Regions from separate parts of the Homo sapiens genome. Here region 1 is linked to region 2. Evidence: fine-mapped expression QTL. Tissue or cell type: lung. Region 2 holds a variant in brackets; the other region holds the start of a gene. All regions are shown on one strand. Distances are from middle to middle.

Region 1 (9,548 bases), 54 kb after region 2:
ACCTACTGCCCCTCAGGAAGCTGAGCGTCACAGTGAGGAGACCCAGCCACCCCCAGGAAGAGCCAGAGAGCCCCACATAGCCAGACATGACTGGCGTCTTGGGGCACACACATATTGGAGAGGCACAGAGGCCCTGTGCAGAAGGAAGGTGTTCTGGGAGTGTCCCTGGGGGCCTGAGAAGGAGCCTGGCACCAGCCTTGAAAGACCAACCAGATACAGCAAACAACAATGGCTCTCCTTTATTGAGCATTTACTATGTGCTAGGTATAACAATACTAAGCATTTCATGTGCACTTTTTTGTCTTCTCCTCATGACCTATGAAGTCATGACCATTATTATCCCCATTTGCAGGTTCAAAAACTGAGGCTCAGAAAGAGTCACGTAGCCAGAAATTGGCAGGGCCGAGATCTCAACTCTAAAGTCCAGTGCTTTACCGCCATGCTGTACCATCATCTCCCTAATCTGTTAACAGGCAGAAAGAAGATAAAGGTGCTTCAGGTGGGGGAAACAAGGTAAAAATAGGGAGGTAGGATCAAGTGCTCTTTGAGGGGAGCTGCCCAGCTCCTCTGTGTTGGGGTTGTATTTGTGTGTGTGCGCATGCCTGAGTATGGGTGGGTGTTCACAGACATGCCCTACTTTGCAAAGGATAGATCCCAGGTCCCAGAACTCCCCGAGAGCCAAGGAAAGAATGGGGCATCAGCAAGTCAGGGAAGGAATCCCAGAGAGAAGGAACTTATCTAAGGTCACACAACATACACACAGCAGAGCAGCAGCCAACTCCAAGGACCAGAACACAGGTCTCTTTCCTCCATCAGCTGCCTGTCCATGTCAGCACAGTGAATCAGCTGCTGACAGGAAAACCACAGTGGAAGGGGAAGCCCGGGGGTGAGTCAGGAACCAGCCAGCCTCCGAGAGACACCAGCTGGGCCTGTTGCAGAGGCCCCGGGTCTGTGGTTGTCTGCCTCTTCTTAGGGCAGCATCAGGGGCGAGGGGAGCAACACATCCCACACCACTCACTCCATGTTTACCTCTGGGCTTCCCCTCCCAGCTCCTCAGACCCCGGCTTAGTGGAGGGGAAGCGGGTGGGTAGGGCAGTTCCTGCTGAGATTAAACGGGTCCTGTCCCACAGAGGGGCCCAGGCCAAACAGTCCAGGCTCTTCCCTCCCTTCCCACCTCTCACAGAGCCAGCTCCTGGCCGTTTGATGTTCTTGATTAAGTCATAACCGCCCCCTGTGAGCTTCCCATGGGGCAGAGGAAGTGGGTATAACGGTTTGGAGCAGAAGGCCAAGGCCAAGGTCAAGCCAGAATCAGGGGTGCCAGCTGGCCCCAGATGCTCCGAATCTGAAACAACACTCAGAACTTGGGGCTGCTCAGCCATGGGTTGAGGGAGGACTGTCTGGTCCTTAGGGGAACAGGTTTGGGTCCCCAGGGTGGAAGGGGATGGCCGGTGGGAGCTTCCAGGCTGTGGCTCTAAAGCGTGAGGCCTCAAGACAGAGGGGGCCGCCCCCACATAGCGGAAACTTCAGAGGAGCCCAGGGAAGCCAAAATCCTGCCCCAGTCCCCCTACTGTGGGAAACTTGTGCCCTGACTGCTCACCCACTGCCAGAGATAGCACATGGCTGACCTCTCACCCCTATCCTCCCTGGGCTGGGATGGGAGGGAGGGATCAGCAGGCACTTCTTCTAACCATCCCGCCCCCGACCCCCAAACTTACTGCTGGCTGGCACAGGCTCCCACCTTTCGGCCCAGATGCCTCCCCTTCATGGGCAAACCCCTCTGTAGCATTCATCACCCTCCCAGCAACCCCGCCACTCACCCAATCCAGCCACCTTCCTGAGACCCTGCTATGTACCAGACAGGATAGGGAGGAGAAAGAAGTGCAAATGTGCTGGAACAGTCCCCTCCCACCCCTCCAATGGTGCCTTTGCTCTCCCTGTGGCTGGTGTCTCTTCCTTCACTCCCAGTTGCAGACATCCCCAAAGCCACCCAGACCCCTTCTTCCCAGTCACTGCAGCCATTGGTTCATTATCCCTTGACCGCTGGATCCTCCACCCCAGCACATCTGGTACAGACTGACTTTCCTAAAGTGCTGCTCTGTTGTGTCACTCCTCTCCTCAGAAACCTTCAGTGGCTCCCACTTTCTGCAAATCAGATCCAAAGTTCTTATCCTGTCATTCAAGGCCCTCCGTAAGCTGATCCCACCTACTATTCCCACTGCATATCCCCACACGTTCCCAAACTTCAGCCAGAATGAGCAACCTAGAGGTTTCTCGAGAATTCTCAGGACAGGTTGACCTCCCTGCCTCTGCCTAGGCATTTTCCTCTCCTCAAGACACTATCTTCATTCTGGCTGCCGAAATCTTCCCAGTCTGTAAGGCCCTGAAGATCCCTCTAATCCTTTTTTCATTTATCTTCCATCAGAGTCCCTGGTATTCTTGTGTAAGCCCCTTCCCGGATGGTAAGCAACCTGAGGGTGCAGGCCTTATGTGGTCGCTTGTCATTCATCGAGCAGGAAGTGGGGGTGGTGGTGGGGAGGGCTTTCCATTAAGGCTCACTAGGTAGGCTCTGTTGAAATGAACGTCTCCTCCTCCCCACCTCAGGCACCACCTACCAGACCCTCTCCCTCCCCACCATACCAAACTCCAATTTATGCCACTTCAGTGCTTGAAGAGACTGTGGTCCCATGTTGATCCAAGCCAAACCAGGACCAGGAGCCCAGAGAGAAAGTCCTATTCAAGTCTCACCCCCTCCAGGAAGCCTCCTTACCCCCACCCCCTGCCCTGGCTTCTCAAGTGTCTCACTCTTCTGAACACCTCCCCCTGCCCTACATACACACACAGTCTCCTGCACACAGCGCAGCCGCCAGTCCGTCTCTGTCCCACAGCACTTTCCAGTTTGTTCCATACTGTACAGCTTATCTCCCAGAAGATGCAGGGAGCCAATATAATGCAGCACCTTCAGCGTCCTTCAGTGTCCAACCCTGCTTAGATATCGGGTGCCCACATTGCCCCTCGCCCCCATCCCAAGCCAAGTGTGCAATGGTATAGCTGGATTCCAGCCACCAGGGCAGAACAGACCCATGAAATCTCATCTGGTTATAAGCCCTGGGTGTGACTGATCCTCTCTACAGGGACATGGTAGGGATGGGGGAGCCCTCATTGTCAGCAACTCAGGCCTGGCTAGTTCACCTCTGTATCCTCTAGCTCTCTCTAGCATATAGTAGGTGCTCAGTAAACATTTTTAGACTTATTTAACTCAACACTTACCAACCTCAAGCAACATTACAGAAAACTCAGCCACTCTTTGTTCCAGATGACACAGTCCTCATCCCTCAAATAGAGTGATGTTGGTGGCAGGTGGCAATTTCTGGCTTTCACAAGGTCAGGAGGGGCTGTAGCCAACCCCATCTCTCCAAGAAAAAAAAAAGGCTCATTCCCCATAGGAAGCAAGCCCATCACCTGCCCACCCGCATCAAAGCAGCTGTCACAGAGGGAGGTCTCACTGGTTTCCTGGCACCTTGCTAAGTAGTGTATACACATTATTCTATTTAGTGCTTGCTCCTGCTATTGGATATTGTCATTATCCCCATTTTACAGGTGAGGAAACTGAAGTTTGGAGGGGGAATGGAATCCAAATCAGTTTGATCCCAAAGCCCAAGCCTTGACCACAGAACTATGCTGCCCCGCTACTGGGGCCCAGCACAGAGCACCCACCACCTCCAGGAACAGAACCCGTCAGCCAAGAAATTAACCCCGGGTATGCTTCAAGGGCCCCTGGGGCCCTGGGCTTGACCCTGGGCCCAAGGATTGGTGGGGTTTTCCCTTCTCTTCCCCACTCACCAGTGTAAGAACTGTTCCCCAGTTTCCAACCTCCTGCTCAGGCCAGCTCACCTGGAAAAGCCCCACTGAGTTTCCAACTTGAAGTCTTAGGGGGTCCGGCTCAGTTGAACTGTTAGAATTGGTGGGAAGCAGGTGAGGCGGGAAATGGAACCTCCCTGCTTTGGCCTCCTCTTCCCCAGGGTTGGTGGGTTCGAGCCCCAACCGAGGAAACAGTGCACTCTTTAAAGCAATTCGCTTCTCTCAGTCCCATTTTGCAGGGAGAGAAACTGCAGAGGGCAACGCGATGGGAACACCTGTGGCGACCTGCAGCCTGCTCTCACCTGCCAGCTCTCACCTTCCGGCGTTTTAAGTGAGAAAGGGCAACGGGAGCGTGGAATTCACCTGGTTCACTTCCTCCTGCTGGAACCCGGGAGGTCCAGAGCCAGGTAGAGGGACGGACCCAGGATCACGCAGCTGTGCACGGCCGAGTGTGAGAACTGGGGGTTCAGGACTGGTGGCTAAAGCTCCTTTTCACCCACCAGCTGCCCCGACCTGTCACTAGTTCCGAGGAAAGTTGTCCGAGCCGGACCGCAGAAGCGGGGGCTAAAACTAACTTTGCCTATGGTTGTCCGGCAGGCTACCCCGGCCCGCTGCCCCCTTGCTCACCTGCGGGTTCTGCTTTCTGCTCCGCGCTGCAGGCCCAGCGTCACCCGCTCGTGCCTCAGTCGGCGTCGGACTGCACAGCCCGGGGCTCAGTCACTCCTCGGCCCCCTCCCGGCTGCAGCCGGGGAACGCCGCGGACTCGGCAGGCCCCGCCCCCAGAAGACACGCCCCCTCCGCCGGCCCCGCCCCCGAGCCCTTTGGGAAGGCGGTGCGCTCCCGCCGGCCAGGCCCCGCCCACTATGGCCGTACCCCAACCAGCCTCGCCCCCGGGCCCAGCTGGAGCTGAGGCCCCGCCCCGCTACGGAGTCTCTCCTCTATCCCGGCAGCCCCGCCCCCAGGTTACACTGGGGATTAAGCCCGCCCCGCTCCAGCCCTGTCCACTCACGGCGCTGCCTAACGGTCCCGCCCAGCTCCCGCCTACCTCGTCCTCCCGGTCTCCTCCCGGGCCCTCCCAGCGCCCCCGCCTCCTTCACTTTCTCCTTCGAGCCCACCCCATCCCCCGGCCCTAGTAGGGTGAGGCCACGCCCCTCCCCGCACCAGCCTGGGCTCAGCGCCTTCCTAATCCTGCCCTGCCCTGCCCCTCTCATCTCGGGCGGGTAGCCCTGGGGCCCCCACGCTGGCATTCCAGGGCGGGTGTATCCGGGTGCCGCCGGGGAACGGCGTGGGAGCGGTTTGTGTCCTAAGTCGGGGCCTCTATCAGGAGGCGGCCTGGGCCCAGGAACTTTTTGAAAATACTGACTACCATTGATTGAATCCTTGCCAGGGGCCAGGCTCTATGCCAAGCGCTGAATACAGTTCTAGCCCTTGAATTCCCACAACTCATGGGTACTCTCGTTGCGCCTATTTTACTAATGCGCAGTTTAAGGCTCAGAGAAGGGAAGTCGAGGGCTCTGAATCTCATGGAGGCGGGCGTGAGCGGGATCCAGCCTCAGGTCCTGAGTCACAGGCTTGAGCTGCCCCAGCTTGCCTGGACTGGCCCCTGGGGAAGTAGCCCAGAACAACCAGTGCTGGGGCAGTGCCCAGCAGCTGCCTGAGGTGAGGGAGGAGGTGTGGGTTGATGAGAATAGTGGCAGGAGGGGCTGTGGGCCTAAGCCCTCAAAGCTGGCTTTCTCCCTGAAGAAAAAGTGGCCCAAAATTGAGGTGGGCTGCAAGAGCTCTCTAGGTGGCTGCGGTGCCCACCCTGCGTCCCAGCCCTCTGCCCTCCCAGGCTCCAGAGGACTAGCCTCAGGCAGATTACCTGGTTAATGACCAGGGGCATTCACCTGTGCAGCTGACAAAGCTCTTTCACTTCCATTATCACAATGTCCTCTCACAACACACCGTTGTGGGAGGGTATGATTATGAGCGCTTTGTACGAGTGGAGTAAGGGCGGGAGCTGGATCCCAGCCCAGCACTGTAGTTCTCACAGCGTGGTCCTTGAACCAGGAGCAACATCATCTGGGAACTTGTTAGGAGTGCGTATTTTGAAGCCCCATCCCAACTTACTGAATGGAAAACTGTGGGACAATTGGTTTTAATAAGGCCTCCAGGTGATTCTGAATCACATTCAAGCATGAACCACTGTTGAGCAAACTGTAAAGAAGTCAGGGTGGTCTGAGAATCACACAGACCTAGGTAGCTTCCTGGTTGCGTTTTAAACCCAGGACAAGGCAAGATACTTAACCTCTGGGATGAGCCCTTAAACAGGGAATAATAATAAAATGAGCCATAACAATCATACCGATCTTGATGGTAGCTGTTGAAGATTACATGTGACAGCATTCATAAAGTATTTGGCCCACCGCTTGAATGCCGTACATGCTCAGAAAATGTTCTCTTTTCAGCAAAAAGTCTCCTTCATAGCATTCCCACACCAAGTCAGAAAAGTGAGGCTGGAGAATCCTTTAAACCCAGCAGTGTGTCATACCCGCAGAGAGACACCCTCTATCCTGCAAGTGGTTAAGATCCTAACAAGCTCCTAGATGATGTGGATGCTGGTCCGGGGACCACACTTTGAGAACCACTGTGCCATTCTGTCTTGGGCTGGGTTTCAGATCCCTACCCTACCCAGCCCATGCAAAATGGGCATAAAATTCCTCCTATTCCACCCTACTCCACACCCCGCTCCCTCCGAGCTGGGGGTGTTTGTGATGGTGTATGGCAGATGCTCCTGACAGCAATAACTTGACTTAAGCATACCCTGAGAATGGTCCTGTATGGCAGATGCACCCCAATGTGTGTTTGGAGTTTTGAGCTAAGGAATCCGGGAATGACCAACCTGGAGATTCATTCCTTATCTGTGAGGAACATTTGAACCCCGGCCCATCCTGTGGAATGCAGGGTGTACAGGGGTTCAAAGCTCTTTGTTTGGGGCCAAATGAAGGTTATCAGGTGGGGGTTGTTAGGGGGAGGGTGCTAAGTGAGAGTGATGTATAAACTGCATGCTTTTTGTAAGCGGTTGTGGCTCTCCTGCCCAGCCTGCCATGGGACTGTACAGTTCTCCTGTCCAGCCCACTGCCACCGGCCGTCCCTGTGTGTAAGTTTCCCAATAAAACCCCATGTCCCAGTTGCTGGCTCTGGTCTCTCCTTCAGCCTCTTGAACCTAGTACCATCCCTACTGAAGTTAATAGGGCTCCAGCAGACAGATGGGAACTGGCCATTGGCAAAACAGCTGGATCCCCTCACTGTCCCCTCCCCCCATGAAGACATTCTCTCATATTAGTCCCATCTGCTATCCCTTGCTGCCCTGCCACTCCTGATTAGAGATAGAGGCAGCTGTGGTGACATTGAGAGCAGTCTTCAGGCAGCTTCTAGAATCTCTGCCATACTCCCTGTCATTGTCTGAGTCCCACAGAAGAGTGTCTCCCTGTAGGAGTGCAGGGCCTGGGCACTGGTCCTGTTATGCTGACCTGCCCGAACATGGAGAGCCCAAGTTAAGAGTGCAAATCAAGGACCAGATACCTTGTATCTAAACATTTAACTGACTGTGAAATAAAATGTGTATTCTCCTGCCTTGACAAATGTTCTTTCTAATGACCAGGAAGACCATGTTCAAATTTAGCATTCTTGGACTCTTTAGAATTTTATGCAAGAACATGGCAGTGCGGGAGGATAGCCTGGCCCTAGCCCTCAGCCCACCCACTCCACTTCTCTTCACACTCCATCTCTGTCTTGTGTCACAAGTGGCCTAGGACTCAGGCATGTGGATACTCCAGCCCACACACCCAAACTTTGCCCACACGCCTTGCCTACAGCCACCTCTTCGTCACCTCTCTATGAATGCACATTCCAGGGACAGGATGTACCCTCAGGAGGATGGACCTGGGCAGGCAGCTTTGTAAACCTTAAAACTGGCTGGGGGGCTGAGCACAGTGGCTCACACCTGAAATCCCAGCCCTTTGGGAGGCTGAGGCAGGAGGATTAAAGAGCTCAGGGGCTCAAGACCAGCCTGGGCAACAGGATGAAACCCTGTCTCTACAAAAACTACAAAAATTAGCTGGGTGTGGTGGCGTGTGCCTGTGGTCCCAGCTACTCGGGAGGCTGAGGTGGGAGGATCGCTTGAGCCAGGGAGGCGGAGGTTGCGGTAAGCTGAGATTGCACCACTGCACTCCAGCTGGGCAACAGAGCAAGACCCTGTCTCAAAAAACAAAACAAAACAAAACAAAACAAAACAAAACAAAACAAAAAAACTGGCTTGGGCTGGATAGGCAGTCTAGGTTTTTAAACACCCAAAGCATGATCAAGGTCAGGTGTGGGCTCTGGGTGGCCACAGGTGCCCTCTTGTCCAGGTCTATGGTGACATTGCCATTTGGCCTTGTCTCCCCAGCTTCTAGCACATGCCTGGAAGCTTAAGGGACAGTTGTTGAGTAGATGTGCATCTGAGTCTAACTTAGTCCATTTTCTGTTGCTATAACACAATACCATAGGCTGGGTAATCGATAAAAGAATTTTATTTTGTATAGTTCTGCAGCCTGGGAATTCCAAGGTTGAGAGGCTACATCTGGTGAAAGCCTTCTTACTGACTCATCACATGGTGAGAGGGCAAGGGCATGCCACCGCAGGTCTCTCTTCATCCTATTATAAAGCTACCAGTCCTCATCATGAGGGCCCCATCCTGATGACCTTATCTAATCCTCCCAAAGGCCCTACCCCCAAATACCATCAACATATGAATTTGGGGATTCAGTTTCCAATACATTCAAACCATAGCAGAGTCATTCACTGAAATATCACATTGGGTTGGCTCCCTCAGCATTGTCCCTATCCCCTCTCTTCCAGCAGAAGGCAAGCTTTGTCATGACTCACCTTGGGCATTTTGCCAGGCAGAAAGCGCAGACACTTCTAGTGAGACTCTACCTCTAGTCCATTCTAGAGGTGGAGCCAGGAGTTCTGGAGGTGGGAAAAGGGGTGAGAAGAACCACCCTAGAAAGCCTTGAGAGAAGATATCCATGGCCAACTTGGAGATGGGGAAGACGGTGGTGTGGCAAGACCTCAGAGAGGTATGGCTATAGGATTGCCAGGCTCTCAGAAGATTCCCCCACCCCAAAGGTGGAAGATGAACAGCTGAGCAGGAGACTTCAAAGAACTTGTAGGCAAGAACATGGGGGCCAGTTCCCTGTTAGTGTCTGGGCCTAGGTTAAGGCCCCAAGACTTTTGCACATCTCTGGTGGAGGAAGGTAAAGAGAATGAGTGCGGGTATCTGTTTCCTACTGTTATGTAACAAACCATCCCACTCATTTATTTTGCCCATAAATCTGCAGTTTGGGGTGGGCTCAGCAGCAACGGCTTATCTCTGCTCTACGCAATGTCAGGTGGTTCAATTGGAGGTTGGGGATCCATTTTCAAGATGGTGTACTCACACACCTAGCAAGTTGGCACTTGCTGCCAGCTGGGAGGTCAGCCAGAGCTGTGGAGGCCTTTGGTCCTCTCCATGAGGCTGCTCCACAGGTTGCTTGAGCTTCTTCATAATTTGGCTGCCGGTTTTGAAGAACAAAGACTCACTTAGAAGTGCATGGCATTTTGTGACCTAGCCTTAGAAGTCATATAGGATCACTTCCTTTGCATCCTATTAGTAGAAGCAGTCACCA
Region 2 (10,468 bases):
TAATACAGGCCTCTCTCCTTCCATTTTACCAGACCCCCACTGACCCACCAAGTGGGTTCCTCGACAGCTTCCCCATGGAAAGAACTCAGACACCACCCCAAGCGCCTGAGTCCTCTATGAACCAGGACCAAGAGGATTGGGTGCTGGGATCACAGGGCCCCTGTCACCCTGGAAGCCCCAAGCTGGGCTCACCCAGGTGTGTGATGCAAGGGCAGAGGATGGACCCCTCCACTCCTATCAGCTGCCACTAACATCCCTTCCCGCCCACTCAGTCCTCCAAGAGGCTGCTGGAGACTCTCCAGCTCTCTCCTTCCACTCCCCACCTCCACACAGCCCCTCTGCACTCCCAGCTGTTCTGGCTGGCCGCCCCTCTGCCCCCAGCATCCTGCAGGAAGCCCACTCCTATCCCAGGGGCTACTGCTTAAAGCATCTGAGGTCACTTGGGGAGAGGCACTTGGCTCTGGGCCTGACATTCCCCTTGCTCAGAAGGCAGGTGCTGGGGAAATGATGTCAGATGGGACAGCTGGGGGCCGGGGTGCTCACAGCTCAGATGTCCTCTAATGGCCCTCCTACCTGCTCACCTTCCCACTAGGCAAGAGGCTGAGTACAGGTCTTACCTGCCCCAGCCCCAGCCCCTTGGGCCAATCAGCCATCCCTGCCCCGGAGGCACCAAGGCCCAAAGTCCTCCCGTGGGCCTCATTCCTACTCAGGGAAGGTATCCCCCAGAGGATGGGAAACCTCCCCTTGAAGCTGGGGCCAGTCCTGGAATGGGCTGCTTGGGGAATGAGCTCACTGTGTACGTGACCGCATTTGGCTCCCACAACAGCACTGGGAGTGAGGAATGAGAGTCCCCATTTTCCCGATAAGACTAAGAGAGGTGAAGTTGCACAGCCTGTCACGTCCAGTGGCAGCTGCTCTGATTCTATTTGATTTCAGTTGGGAAGGGGATTGCCAGGGCAATGGCTGATTCCTGCACTGTGGCAGGGGCGATGAGCACTTCCTCCTACTTTCCTGTTTGTTCGACGCGCTGTTCATTCTACTTCCTTCCACAGGAAGGGGCCTTGGATGGGCCCCAGGGATCCCACAGCAGCACTTGGCTCAGACTGTGCTGTCAGCAGTCGGCAGTGTGTGCTGGTACGTACCTGTGTACGTGTGGCAGGGTGTGCTGTGTGCATGCGTGTGCTGTGTGTGCACGTGTGTCCTGGTGCATCAGTTGTGTGCAAGAGTCTCTACACTCATCAGAATGCAGGTGCCATGTGGGCAGGGGGTTTGTGTGTGTTCACTGCTGTGTTCCTAAGATCCTAGAACTGTGCTTCACAAATAGTCTGTGCCATTAAGTATTCATGGGATGAATGAATGAATAAATGAATAAACCTTAGCCTACAGCCTCTAAAGACCCCAGAGAACAGCCAGACATTTGCCCCGAGGCAGCGTAGCAACCTGGGTCTCTGTCCTTCTGCAGGGGAGAAAGGCGATGGGAGCGCTGGCCCAGGAGATGCCTGTTGGCTAGATGCTCCAGCGTCACCAGTGTGCCCCTCCACCCGGCTGCTCTCAGCCTGGGGGACCTGCTCACCTGGAAGATCATCTGGGGCAGAGGCTGGAGGCAGCTCTGCTAGGAGACAGGATGGTGATCAGCGGCAGAGGGGGCTCTGCAGTGTAGGCCCGGGAAGGCCAGGCAGGAAGACACTTGGCTTTCCCTGTTCACTACGGGCCACCCATGGCTTAGTCTCAGGGAAGAAGAGCTAGGGTTCCTCCCAGCTGGGAATGGACTGAGCCCTCAGGGGCCTTCAGGGCCTCGAGTGTGTGCGTGTGAGAGAGTGCATGCATGTATGTGCACATGTATCAGGCTGCCATTCACCAGTACTCACCCAGCCAGCCATACCAGTTATTATGAATAAAATGGAGAAATATTTCCACACCAGTTGAAAATTCCCCCCCAGCTCAATCTCTCAGAGCTCCTGCACCTCCCGCCAATCCATACGTAAGGATCCCATTCCAGCTCAGGCCTGACTTCCATACCTATTGGTCAGTGGCCATGCCAATCAGTGCCCCCCAAAGTCCAGCTCCCTGAACACATCCTAGGCACTGTCTCTAACCTCCCACGGGAGCCCAAAGAGCAACCCTTTGCTCCAGCCATTCTTCCTGGCTGCCCCAGGGAGCTGTGGGTGGGCACTGCCAAGGAGCACCCTTGTACTCTCCTCCACATGGTACCCATGTGCCAGTCCTTTGGGCCTGTCAGGGCCCTTGGCAGGAGAGATGGCAGCCCACAGAGGGCCCAGGGAGGGCAGCTGGAAGGTGTGGAAGCCCCAGATGGGCATGGGACAGATTAGTGGCTGCAGGGACGATTCTGAGTGTTAGACATGGGTCTATGTTCCCTCCCTCCCAAAACCTCACAGGCTGGGAGTAAGTGGGTTGCTGAAACTGGGTGCTCCCCAGGAGGTTGAAATGAGGAACCCAGCAGGCTCAGAGCTCACAGTGACCAGATTTCACAAAAGCGAGGGTCAGAGCCTCACACTACACACGTCCTGGGGCTGTTCTGGGAAATCTGGAAGGGCAGGAGCCAGTGGAGCCAGGAGGATGGTCTTTGAAGTCAGATACGTGGGGTTCAAATCCTGGCTCTGGCCCCTTCCAGCTGTGAGCTCTGGGCAGGATGGACGTGTCAGAGGAAGCAGCCCACCCCTTCGCTAACTTCTGACGTTTTCTCAGTCCTCTATTTTGCAAACAGCTTTGAGCCCACCCTCAGCCTGCCAGGCCCCGTGTCGCACAGGAAGATGGAGATGCAGCTGGACTCAAACTCAGGTCCCCTTGCTCCCAGTGAGAAAGCATTTATGAAAAGACACCCAACAGCTCTCTGCTACCCTTCCTGAGGGTGGAAGCTGTGGGGGGCCAGGGAAGTCAGGCCAGGTGGAACCATCGACATTTTCCTCTCCTGCCCCCATCCCAGAGGGAGGCGACCAAGGCCACAGAGGGACCCACAGCCGACCCCACCGCTGACACCTCCTCAGCTGCCACATTCGCTGAGAGGTCATCACGTGGCTTGGGACAGACATTACTCCAGGTCTGAAAATCTTCCGGAATCAACGCAAAGGGGTGCAAATAGGCAGATTCCTTGTCCCCACCCTAGATCTGCAGCGCCAGAATCCTTGAGCCTTGGAATCTGCATTTTCACAAGTGCTTCCACTGGAGTGGGACGCTGGCAGGCCCCGCGTTGGCGAAACTGGGAGTAACCACGGAACCTTTGGGCTCTGCCGGGCTCCTAGGCTGAGGCTGCAGCGCCGCCTGGTGGTCCCTGCTGAAACACCACTCTAGCCGCCGCCCCGCCTGGCCCCACTGCAGGGAGGCAAGAGTTCCCCTCCCCACTGGCTCCAGAAATGAGAGAAGGTGGGGCAAGTGCCCTCTGGACTTCATGACGCCGGGCAAGGGGCATGCTGGGGCTCAGTCGTCAGAGCCGTGCACAAGTAAGAGCAAGCTTCTTTTTCTTTTTCTCTCTCTCTCTCTGTCGTTTTCTTTTTCTTCCTTTCTTCTTTTTTGACAGATTCTCGCTCTGTTGCCCAGGCTGAAGTGCAGTGGCACAATCTTGGCTCACTGCAACCTCCATCCCCCGGGTTCAAGCAATTCTCCTTTCTCAGCCTCCTGAGTAGCTGGCATTACAGGCGTGCACCACCACACTCGGCTAATTTCTGTATTTTTTGGAGAGATGGGGTTTCACCATGTTGGCCAGGTTGGACTCGAACTCCTGACCTCAAGTGATCCACCTGCCTCAGCCTCCCAAAGTCTCACATTTCATCTTAAAAAGTCCCCTGAATTCTGCACATCTTACTCCATCACATTTCTTTAGTATGAAAATGTTTCCTTCCACAAATCTTTGCAGAAACGGATGCTCTAGAAAGCGATGCCAAGTTTATCCTGTGGCTTCCCTGTCCCCCATCACCAGCCCACTTTTGTGCAGCTTCTGGGGGCACCCATACCCTAGTTTCAGAAGCAGGAATTGAGAGGTACAATCTATACCTCTCTTAGCACCAAATCAAACTCCAGGCACCCCGGCATGCAGGCAGGCCCATCAGAGCCTGGCCCATCACGGTCCTAAGGTTCAGGCTGCAGAAGCAGATGCCTGCGGGGAGGGCAGAGCAGTGAGGGGTCCAGCAGTCTCCAGCAGACCCAGCCACTCTGCTCACACCCTCTGCCCTGGGTCCTCCCCTGCCCCAGGAAGCAGCATCCCTACCATTCCAGACTAGACTGTTATAAATCCTCTTTAATAGTCTTAGAATCTTGAGTGTGTTTTACAGAATGGTGCACACAAAGCCCCCTCCCCTCTCCCCCTACAAGGCACAGCCTCACCCACCCCACTCCCCAGGGGCCAGAGGACCGCTTGCCAAGAAAGGCCAGCCCACCTTCTCCCAGGAGAAGCCATCCTCCTCCTCCCCGCCCCTGGCCAGCTCCGGACCCTGGAGAATACAGGACCAGCTCTGTGCCATGCCCCCAAGGACTCACCTGTCCCTAAGCAGCTCAGGGCCAAGCCAGATCCCCTTACCCAGGCAGACCCCCTCCAGCCCAGCTCCCCTAGGCCGTGTCCCTAGGGCATGGCCTAGGCTAATCTGAGCTGTCTAGATGGACCTGCATCAGGCCTGGGGAAGGGGTGCCACCCCTTAATATCAGGTAAAACCCACCCTCTCCCCTCTCCCACTGCCTTCAATATAATTGTGAAAAATAAAGATATAAATGTCATAGTGGGAAATAAGTTGACCCACCCAGTAGGCAGTCTCCTGACAGCCCAGAGTGCCTTATCTAACGCCCTTCCCTCCCCAATTTTTTTTTTTTTTTTTTTTTTTTTTGAGACGGAGTCTCTTTCTGTCCCCCAGGCTGGAGTGCAGTAGCACGATCTCAGCTCACTGCAACCTCCGCTCCCGGGTTCACACCATTCTCCTGCCTCAGCCTCCCAAGTAGCTGGGACTACAGGTGCCCGCCACCGCGCCCGGCTAAATTTTTTTTGTATTTTTAGTAGAGACGGGGTTTCACCATGTTAGCCAGGATGGTCTCGATCTCCTGACCTCGTGA[T/C]CCACCCGCCTCGGCCTCCCAAAGTGCTGGGATTACAGGCGTGAGCCACCGCGCCCGGCCCCCTCCTCCCCAATTTTTCATACAGTTGCCCCTATACAATATACACACCCTTGAGGGCAGGTAGAAGTCCAGCCCACCTGCGCCAGGGACGCTGTGGGGAGCATTTTTCTCTGAGTTGCTAAGAGAACCCTGATGGGCGGTGAGCAGAGGAACCACAGAACAGCCAGGGCTCAAGGCTGGCAGCGGATAGGCCAGGAGAGATCGCTAGGCCCCAGAAAGCCCCCTACTTTCAGTCAGGATGGGCAAGAGGGTCTTCGCAGTGAAGTGGGAGGCAGGCCTGGAGGAGGGAGCCAGGGAGACCCCTGGGAGCCCTGAGGTTGGGGGCCAGGCAGGGAGATGGGGATAGCAGCTGCCTCAGTACTTGGGGACCTTGCTGTAGTCTTCGGAATGGACGTGCCGGCACAAGCAGATGGACAGGACCATCCCCAGGAGCTGTGGGGAGAGGCGGAGAGTCAGAGGGAGGCTGGGTGTCCCGGCCTCAGACGCCCCAGCCTCACCATCCAGGTTTACATGGGGATTAAGTGGATCCTCAACTTGAGCCTCACAACCACCCTGTGATGCAGGCAGCAGAGGGAGGCCCAGAGCGGGGCAGTGCCTTGTCTGAGGTCACACAGCCAGACAGTGCTCAGACCAGAGGGCCTCTGGAAGCTGATGGGGTGCTGGCCCCCTTGGCCACCACCTCCCCAAGGAGATCAGCAGAACAGAGACAACCCAGGAGGACCTGGGATGGAGAAGGGATGGGGGAGGGGGCTCAGACCTCGATGATGGCCACACCCACGCCCACGCCGAGGATGATGCCCAGGTTCTCCTGCAGCCACGCCTGCACCTTCTCCATGCAGCCCTGCAAGGGCAGAATGCGGTCACATCACCCCGCTCTGCACCATCCCACCCCGCCATGCAGAACCACCGAGAGCCCCCCAGTCCCAGCCCGGAAGCCCCTACAGAGGGCTCTGCCTGTTCCTTGAATAAATACATTAACAAAGAAGTAGATGAAGGTACAAATGACAGATGAATTAAGGGAAGGAACTAAATGCAGGAAGGAATTGCTGAGCAGTAGCCCAGATGGCCCCCAACGCCCTCGGAGCCCCGCCCCCGATCCGCAGCCCCCCGCACACCTCCTGGTACACAGGCCAGTCCTCAGGGTGGTTGCCACTCTGGGTCCTGTTGCCGGGGGCCTCGCAGAAGCCCTTCCTCACAGAAAGGCTGTTGTCCTCTTCCCCCTTGACTTCGCAGGAACAGGGGTAGGTGACCTCAGGGCGATTCATGAGCTCAGCGTTGTCTGTCCAGTTGTAGAAGCTGACCCAGCCGCAGCACTTCACCTGGGCAAGGCAGGGGACAGACTGCTTGTGCTCACGGCTCACCCTAGGCAGGCTGCCCTCCTGGCAGAGGGAGGACCTCCCCAGGACAGAGACTGAGATATGCCACTTCCAGGCCCCTGGTCCCAGCCGAACCATCATAAACTACAAGTACAGCAGAAAAATCAAAACCAGGACCAGCAAAAATACAAAGCAGAGTAGGAAGGAAGTTCAAGTTGAAGGAGCGCAGGTGTGCAGGGCACAAGGAGAATGGACGGCAGACAGTTCACAGTGCAGGGTTTAAAGTCAGGCTACTGGGTTACAATCCCAGCCCTGCCGCCTACCAGCTGAGCAACCTCCATCAAGGAACTAGCCTCAGTTTCCTCATCTGTAAATGGGGATAATTAAAATCCCCAACTCACAGGGCTATCACAAGGACTAAATGGGATGAGGCAGGCAAAGTACCAAGCATAGGTGTGGGGAGCACAATAAGCTTAGGAAAGGCCGTTCAACTTTAGTGCAGGAGTTGAGATTTGCCTCTGAGCTTCCTGGTGAAAAGGAAAAAAAGTGAAAAGTGAAAAAGGAGACGGGGTCAATTCCGCCTTTTTTTTTTTTTTTTTTTTTTCTGAGACAGAGTCTTGCTCAGTCACCCAGGCTGGAGTGCAGCAGCGTGATCTTGGCTCACTGCAACCTCCACCTCCAGGGTTCAAACGATTCTCCTGCTTCAGCCTCCTGAGTAGCTGGGATTACAGGCACTCGCCATCACGCCCGGCTAATGTTTGTATTTTTAGTAGAGACGGGGTTTCACCATGTTGGCCAGGCTGGTCTTGACCTCCTGACCTCAAGTGATCCGCCCGCCTCGGCCTCCCAAAGTGCTGGGATTACAGGTGTGAGCCACCTTGGCTAGCTGGTCAATTCTGCCATTTTAAAGGAGAAAATGCTCTAGTTCTAGAGAGAAGAAAGCCTTTCCGGGCTCTGTGTGCTAAAGGAGGTCTCTGTGTGTGAATCCCCGCAATGCTGGGGGTTCCTGGGAGGATTCAATGGGATAGCCACGGTCACAGCAGGGGTCAGTTCCTGGACCGCTTCCTTCCTAGCTCCGAGGGGTGTCGCCTGACCAGTAGCCAGTGGCCAGCAGGGGGCGTGCCAGGCACACTCAGAAATGCTCAGCTCCAGGCAGTTTCTAATCCAGGTTTACAGGTGCTTGTTCCAGCAGCCGGGCTGCCTCCTCTCTCCAAGAAAAGGCTGGCACCTCTGAGGGGTGCACAGGTCTGCAAGGCTGGGGGCACCCACAGGCCATCCTACACCAGAGCAAAATGAGGCAGGTCTCCTTGGCCCGTCTACGACAGAGCCTCCTTCCAAGCAACCCCTTGGCCTGACTCCGGCTGTACCTGGTCCCCAGCAGCACACGCCACCTCCGCCTGTGTCTCCATGGATGTGCATGGTGACTAAAACATCACCACCAACATACCACATAATAAATGCTGCCTAAGTGCTTCAGGCTTTAACAATGTATCTCACACGGCATGGGTCAGTAGCCCCATTGTATAGATGAGGAAGCAGGCTCAGCAAAGGTCTAGCGGCTGTGGCAGTGTTAGCACTCCAGGCCTTGGGAGTCTGACTTACCACCGGCCTAAGCAGCATCTGACAGCATCAGAATCATCTAGAACCAGCCAATGACTTTCCAGGGTAGGATGCTTACCACCTCCCAAGGGACCCACTTCTCCTCCCAGGTCCCTTGTCAGGTGGCACTGGTTTATGTCACTGGTGACATCCAGACTTTGCTAAAATTAGCAAAGTCTCAGCAATTGTGGGTCAAACTACATATGCGACCAAAACATTTCCTTGTGTGCACCAAGCCTTCCAGCTGCCACAACCCCCACACCTGATCTCCTCGGTCAGGGCCAGAAAACATCGCTCTCCCCTTCCTCCACTGAGAAAATGGCCATGTCCATGTCACCTAGATGGAGTGTCCTCTCTGCAAACTCTCCTGGTGCCGCTGAGTCAGGCTTTCTCCTGCTGCCCATGCCCTTTGTACTCCACATCCCTCCCCTGAGGTGTCAACAGGCCCTAAGTGACCACTGTGTCCTGCGCCCTCACAGGATTGCAGATCAGAGATGTCAGGTCCCAGCCAAGGGCACATGCAGCATCCGGGACCACAAGAAAGGAGAGCCAGGTGGTCATTGGATCACTATTGAGACAGGCTGGGAACCTGGTCAGTCTATCTGTTGGTCAGTCGGTCAGTCCGTCCGTCCATCTGTCCACCCATCCATCCATCCATCTCTCTCACTTTAATGGAGGTATAATACACATGAACTAATGGGCACACATTCAGCTTGGTGCATTTTTACGTATGTGCACATACTGGCGAAACCAGTATCAAGATTTGGCTAAAATACTCCTTTTGCCCTAGAAGGCTCCCCAACACCTCCCCAGCTAGTGCCCTTCCCCAGAGGCAGCCTTCACTGGGACTTCTCAGCATATCAGCCTTGGCTCCCAGTTTCCTAAAACCCAGAGTGGAGCTCCCAACGCTCCCCAGTGTAGCTTGAGATAAGAGGGCTGACAACTGCCCCCATGCTCTCTGGCCACAAATGGGAGCACAGAGCTGTGAAGCTGCCTCTGAGTCTCTGGGCCCCCTGAGCAGGGAGTTGTGGTGCTAACTGGGGTGCCCTGCCCCCATAGAAGCACACTCTCCTACAAACTGTCAGGCACACACGAGCACTGCAGATGCCAGTCCCAGACATGTGGGTGCACAGAGCCCCAAATGCAGGGACACCCAGGCCAGAGAGCCTCCTGCAGCCCCGCCCCACCTCACCTGAGCCTGCACGTAGTCCCAGGCATCCTGCAGGCTGTCCTCGCGACTGCTGTTGTAGTCTCGAATGAGCTCAGTCACGATGCCGCCCATCTCCTGCTTCAGCTGCAGGGGGGAGGACAAAGGTCAGGGTCAGATTTCCTGAAACCCGTGCCCACCTGTGGTCACCCCTACTTAAACTGCCTCCCCCCGTTCCCCTCAGCAACCCTGGGACACGCTCATGGCTCCAGCCACTTTCCTGGCGCTCCCAGGGTGCCCGATGCAGGCAGTGCCAACCACTCCTGCCCCACTATCTCTTCTGCGCTTGGCAGCAGCCTGGCCCTGTAAACATCAATATTCTCATGTCACTGCTGAAAACCCCGTAGGGGCCTCCCACCTCCAGGGCAGTTCCCACCGTCATTGTCCCCATAACAGCCTAGGAGGTCCTACACCACTTGTCTGCCTCCCCAGGCCTTCTGTCCTCTGTTCTTCCTCCCTCTGCTTCAACTGACTAGATTTCTGTGCTGTCTTTGTGCCAGGCACACTCCTGCCTTGGGGCCTTTGCACCTGCTGTTCCCACCGCCTGGAATGCTCTTCCCCTAGACATTAACATGGCTCACCCTCTGCTTCCTTCAGGGCTCTGCTCCAATGTCACCTCCTCAGAAAGGCCTTACCAGACCACTCTACAAAATATCAGCCCTTCCCCATCCCCTCTCCCCCAACCAATCAACCACCCCTCCCCGGCCTCCCTTATCCCACAAGGGAAAGCATGCTGTATTTCTCTTTAGAGCACTGACGTTACATGCTTGTTGGTTTTCAGGGCTTATCATCTCTCTCCACTAGCACATCAGCTCCGTGGGGGCAGGGACCACATCTGGCACGCTCACTACAGGGTCCCCCGTGGCTAGCGCCAAGCCTGGCACAGAATAGTTGTGTGGGGTACGTGAATGCTGAATGCACACCTAACCACCATGGTCTGCCAGGCACCAGAGCCAGACCCATGCAACTTCTTGGTGAATCCTTACACCTCCCACAGGGCAGCTTCAGGGAGAAGGAGGGACAGGGAGGAAAGCCCAGCTCAGTTTCCTTCTTCCAAGGACCAGAGTGCAGCCTCTCCAAACAGGGCCCCCAAGACAGCAGGGTAGATGCCTGGAGGGGGCCCCAAGACTGAGGGACCTGGAACTTCGGTATCAACTATATGGTCAAAAGATCCTCCCTCTATGTAGTCATGGTGGTGGGTGCCCGTAATCCCAGCTACTCAGGAGGCTGA

The links. PIP is the estimated chance that this variant, and not a neighbour inherited with it, causes the effect.
Region 1: CD82 starts here. The variant in region 2 is fine-mapped to the expression of CD82 in lung (TOPMed, PIP 0.93).

Annotation. Positions count from the first base shown.
Region 1 is chr11:44,560,674-44,570,221 of GRCh38, reverse strand. CD82 (CD82 molecule) reads right to left here and starts at 4,559. Exons shown (of 10, transcript NM_002231.4): 1 at 4,486-4,559. RefSeq lists enhancers at 745-934, 3,471-3,540, 4,046-4,546, 7,386-7,885, 7,886-8,387 and 1 more and a silencer at 4,461-5,060.
Region 2 is chr11:44,614,128-44,624,595 of GRCh38, reverse strand. CD82 (CD82 molecule) reads right to left here. Exons shown (of 10, transcript NM_002231.4): 7 at 9,223-9,324; 8 at 6,231-6,434; 9 at 5,873-5,956; 10 at 4,238-5,547. The coding sequence ends at 5,470. Among named protein-coding and RNA genes, the nearest start is that of CD82-AS1, 14 kb to the right of the region's middle. RefSeq lists an enhancer at 7,830-8,179. The variant T/C (reference allele first, on the strand shown) is at 5,056.